Linked DNA regions of Homo sapiens: region 1 is linked to region 2. The links come from fine-mapping of genetic effects on gene expression. A gene starts in region 2. The other region holds a variant in brackets. All regions are shown on one strand. Distances are between the middles of the regions.

The links. PIP is the estimated chance that this variant, and not a neighbour inherited with it, causes the effect.
Region 1: its variant is fine-mapped to the expression of USP10 in whole blood (TOPMed, PIP above 0.99).

Annotation. Positions count from the first base shown.
Region 1 is chr16:84,763,416-84,766,428 of GRCh38, forward strand. USP10 (ubiquitin specific peptidase 10) reads left to right here. Exons shown (of 14, transcript NM_005153.3): 10 at 671-848. Among named protein-coding and RNA genes, the nearest start is that of CRISPLD2, 55 kb to the right of the region's middle. The variant T/G (reference allele first, on the strand shown) is at 1,613.
Region 2 is chr16:84,698,464-84,700,963 of GRCh38, forward strand. USP10 (ubiquitin specific peptidase 10) reads left to right here and starts at 1,537. Exons shown (of 14, transcript NM_005153.3): 1 at 1,537-1,648. The coding sequence starts at 1,628. RefSeq lists silencers at 1,009-1,528, 1,619-1,838, 1,849-1,958, 1,999-2,108.

The sequences.
Region 1 (3,013 bases), 65 kb after region 2:
ATATATATGTCTTATCTGTCCATCCATATATACATACATACGCATACATTTTCCCTGAATGATTCAAAGTTAAGTTGCAGCTAACAGTTTAGTTCATCTCAGGTGCTAAAGCATCTCCTGCGTAACCACAGTCCCTTATCTAACTGAGAAAAACAACTGTAATGACACGGTAATACCGACTTTGCAGAGCATCTTCAAATTTCGCCAGTTGTCCCAGGGATGTCATTTCTAGGAGTTTATGTAAACAAGGATCCAGTGGTGGTGCACCTGTTGCGATTGGTTGCCGTGGATCAAGTGGCATTGCAATGGGTTGCAGTGGATCCAGTGGCATTGCGCCTGTTGTGATTGGTTGCCGTGGATCCAGTGACGTTGCACCTGTTGCGATTGGTTGCCGTGGATCCAGTGACGTTGTGCCTGTTGGGATTGGTTGCCATGGATCCAGTGACGTTGCACCTGTTGCGATTGGTTGCCGTGGATCCAGTGACATTGTGCCTGTTGCGATTGGCCGTGGATCCAGTGACGTTGCTCCTGTTGCGATTGGTTGCCGTGGCTCCTAATGTAGACCACACCCTGATTTCATTTTTAAAACTGCAATCGACAGATCTGTGCCTTTTTTTTTTTTGCTGTTCTTGTCGTAAATAGTAGTGTAAGCAGATGCTCTCCTTTTCAGAACTTACGATTTCCAACGGCCCCAAAAACCACTCGGTCAATGAAGAAGAGCAGGAAGAACAAGGTGAAGGAAGCGAGGATGAATGGGAACAAGTGGGCCCCCGGAACAAGACTTCCGTCACCCGCCAGGCGGATTTTGTTCAGACTCCAATCACCGGCATTTTTGGTGGACACATCAGGTTTGTGCTTTTCTGGAATAACTTAATATTTGCCTTTTCTAGGGTTTTGCCATGTTGGTGAAGGGGGAAGGTGTGAGGCTTGTTTTGAGACTTCTTGGACGTAATGGTTTGCATCTTGCTCCCCTGCCTGCTCTTCTCTTGCACTTCCTGATGCTTCCCTTGTCAGCCCCCGTGGCTTATTCTCTCCCTGCTGGCGCATGTCTGCAGGGGACAGGGAGCTCCTCCCTTCTACTCTGTCAAGTTCAGCTGCTCACTGCTAGGGAGTAAGAGAAAAGCCAGCTAATTGGCCATACGCGGTGGTTCATGCCTGTAATCCCAGGACTTTGGGAGGCCAAGGCGGGTGGATCACCTGAGGTTAGAAGTTCGAGATCAACCTGATCAACATGGTGAAACCCCGTCTCTACTAAAAATACAAAAATCAACCAGGTGTGGTGACAGGCACCTGTAATCCCAGCTATTAGGGAGGCTGAGGCAGGAGAATCGCTTGAACCCAGGAGGCAGAGGTTGCAGTGGCCCAGATAGCGCCATTGCACTCCAGCATGGGTGACAGAGTGAGACTCTGTCTCAAGAAAAAAAAAAGAAAAAGATACAGGAGAATGTCATCATGACTTAGGGGTAGGCAAAGGTTTCATAAGATAGGTCATAAACAATAACCACGAGAGAGAGAGAAAAAAAAATATATATATATATATTAGACTTCATCTGCATTTAAAACTTGCAACATAAAACCACCTCCGGGAGGCAGAGGTTGCAGTGAGCCAAGA[T/G]TACACCACTGCACTCCAGCCTGGGTGACAGAGCAAGACTGTCTTCAAAAAAAAAAACCAGCTAACCAAACCATGTGTTTTGGTAAGAGAAGACAGTGTATCTGGAGGAATTTTATTTATGTTAATAAATTGTGTATATTTAAAGTATACACAGATGTTATGAAATAGAGATAGTAAAATAGTTGCTACAGTGAAGCAGATAAACATATTCCCCATCACAGTTACCCTTGTGTGTGTGTGTGTGCACATGGCAAGAGCAGCTGCAGTTTTACTCATTTCACAAAAGTCCCAAATACAGTGCACTATGAGTAGCTCTTGTCCGATGTTCCACATCAGATCTCTAGACCTGTTCGCCTGTGTGGCTGCCCTTGGTGTCCTTCGACCGACATCTTCCATTCCCACTCGCCACCCCTAGGAACCACTCTTTTCCCTATCTCTGTAGTTTCGTCTTTTTTTTTTTTTTAATAAAGATTCCATGTATAAGTGAGACCATGCAATATTTTTCTTTCTGTGTCTGACTTCTTTAACTTAGTATAATGTTCCCCAGGTTCATTCCTGTTGTGGCAAATGGCAGGGTCTTTATTACAGCTGAATAGTGTTCCCTTGTCTATATATACACACCACAGTTTCTTTATCCATTGGCCCATCCACAGACAGTTGTTTCCCTGTCTTGGCTGTTGTGAACTGATTGGAAGCAGGTGAGGTAGAAAGTGAAGAGAGTGTGAAGGGAGGTCTTTTTTACACAGACAGACCCGTGACTGGGCTGGAGTCCCTGGGCACCTGGCTGTGTGCCAGTTCCCTTAAGCAGCTTTTTGCTCATTCACAAAGTCCTTCGGAAAGGTTTTTCTTTATTTACCTGAGAGCTTTTCAGTACCACTGTGATGTGGAATTCAGCAAAACTTGTACCATCTCCAAGAAGGTTTACCCATCGAAAGTACTGAAGAGGCCTCATTGGAGCCTAATTTCCTTTCTGAGGCCTTGCGGCATAACCCCCAGGCTGGTATTTCAGTGACACTCTTAGTCTGTTGTTGTCCCAAATGCTGCGTACCTGAAAGAAAGAGCACCCCTTTTGAGGCATCAAGACTTGATTCAGTCTCAGTTCTGAGACTGAATCAACAACTTTCAACAGGTGAATAATAAGAACCTCAGAAACCTGCGCTGACGCCCTCAGAAGCTGGTTTCCCGTCCTCTGTGGAAGTGGATTTAGAAGCCAGTTGAGCAGCCATGTGACCTTGAACAAGTCACTTCTGTGTTCTGCACTGTGAGCTCTATTCCACTGGCCCCTTTCTATTCTGGTGCTCTGTGGAGTGTCCACGGCAGCTGGGTGGTCAGTTGTCACCTGGGAAACACCCAGCCCTGACCACTGTCTGTGGTTCCTTGGGACACGTCGTGTTGGGAGGG
Region 2 (2,500 bases):
AAACCAGCTTAAAAGACATATCAGGATCCAAGCAAGATGACACATTGTATTTGGTTATGTTTTCTAGCTCTTCTATTTTGGAACAACCCCTCCCTACCACTTATATTTTTCTTTTCTTTTCTTTCTTTCTTTCTTTCTTTTTTTTTTTTTGAGACAGAGACTCGCTCTGTCACCCAGGCTGGAGTGCAGTGGCACGATCTCGGCTCACCGCAACCTCCGTCTCCGGGGTTCAAGTGATCCTCCCACCTCAGCCTCCTGAGTAGCTGGGACGCCTGGTGTGCCACACTACATCCCACCAATTTTTGTATTTTTAGTAGAGTTGGGGTTTCATCATATTAGCCAGGCTGGTCTCCAACTCCTGACTTCAAGTGATCCGCCCGCCTCGGCCTCCCAATGTGTGGGATTCCGGGTGTGAGCCGCTGCGCCTGGCCCACTTATATTTTTCATGGCATCCCATTTATGAAGAGACCAGGCTCCCTATTTTATGTAACGTGGGAATGGATCTTCCTGTTCATCTCCTCTGCTCAGTGTACGGTCTAGCAAGAGCAGACTCTCTGTAGGTGTTTGTTGAATAAATGAAACCAATAGTAATGGTTATTAATAACAATCCCAGTAGCCAATTTTTATTGACTATTCTCTTGGCCAGTGTGCTCACGTTAATCTAATTTGAACCTCACAGAAATCTTACGCGTTATGACATATTTGTCTTATTCACAGGTGAGGAAACCAAGGCTTAGGGAAGGAAAGTCGCTTGTCTGAAATCACAGCTAGAAAAGGGGCCAAAACCCAAGGGTGGACCCACTGGCTGGAAAACAGTGCAGTTAGGCAGGGGCCCCTGTTTCTTAATAATGAATGAACCAACGACCCCCAAGGCTGGTTTGCCCGTGCACACGCACGCACGTGTGCAACACGTAGCACTTGCTGAGTGTTTGCTACTTGCCAGGCCTCATGTCAAGCACTTTACGCGTGCTTTTATGCCCTACGTTTTGTTTTTGTCTGTTTTGCTTTTTTCCCCTAATGCCTAGCCAAAGGCGTGGCCCAGGCGCCCAGGCAGGACTTGGGGAGTGAATGAAGAGTGAACAAATGAATGAATGCGCGGCAACGGGATCTTCATAAACCAGACCCTCCTCGGGGATCTAATGCGAACACTCCCGAGGCCCGGGCCCAGGTACGCTGAGGGCGGCTCGTGGGCCCCAGGCCGACCTCAGCCCGCGACTCCCGGGCTCCGGGGGCCCAGGTGGCCCCCAGTAGGTGAGGAGCCGGGCCCGCCGGCGCCTTGGCGTTGCCACCTCTACCTGCCTGCCCTCTCCCCTTCCGGATCCACAGCCAGGCCTCGGCGGGCTCCTGGTGTGCAGCCGCCCGGCCGCTTCCGCCCGAGGGTCGCGGGGCTCAGAGTCCGGCAGGCTCCAGGCGGGGCAGGGGATGTCCGCGGCCCGGCAGGCGCACGCCCACCTGTCGGCCGCGCAGGCGCAGCAGCGGGCCGGCCTCCCCGCGCCCCGCGGCGCGCGGCCAGTGCGCAGGCGCGGCGGCCGATGCGAGTGTGTATGTGCGGGCGAGAAGATGGCGGCGGCGGGGGAAGCAGCGTGAGCAGCCGGAGGATCGCGGAGTCCCAATGAAACGGGCAGCCATGGCCCTCCACAGCCCGCAGGTAGCCGCCGGTCTGCGCCTTCGGCCGGAAGGGGCCCGAGCCCCGGGCGGGCGGACGCCGCGGCGGGCGGGCGTCCGCGCCCTGCCCGGAGCGAGCGTGTGGGAGTGGGGGAGGGCGCTGGGACACGCTGCCCGGGCCTAGGCCGGAGCCACCCGCCGCCTCCGCGCCCGCCGCGCCTTCGTCCCCTGAGCCACCCGGACCCCCTAGTCCCGGGGAGGTCGAAGGGCGGGGGCTCCGGGCCCCGCTTGGGGAGGGCGTGGAGGGCGCCGAAGGGGTTAACCTCCCTGGGGCTGGACCGCGGGGCGAGCCCGGGGTGTGGAGTGGGGCCCTCCCCGCCGCGCCGGCCGGGGGAGGCGGCCCGGGGGCTCCGGGAGTCCCCTGGAGCGCAGGGGCCCCAGAGCAGCTCAGGTTGCTGCCTCTGCCTGGAGCGAGCCTCAGAGATTTGGGGGTGCCCTGTTGCCCCTTTGCCCCAAGAGCTTCCTTTCTCAGCTTGATTGATGATGCGGGGGTTGCCGATTTTCTGTTTTTTAGATAGAAGTAGCAGAGTAGCGGCCTTGGGCTGCTGTTGCAAAGAAAACTCGAAATAAGTCGCAAGGACCGTACTTTCACTTGCGTTTGAGTGACATCCCTTGCACGAATCCATCCCAGCCAGGCTGACAACTAACGCACCCTGCCTGAACAGTAGCTAAAGCTTGGGGGCCCTTTACAATAATCCCGTGGTGGAAAGAAAGAGCTCTTTTTGGGAGATGTGCGTGTAGAGTTAAGCTCTTATTCCCCTCTCCCACCCCTTCTCTCACATCTTCTCCCCCCTCCGCCATTATAATTATTCTGGACAAAAATCGGCATGATGTA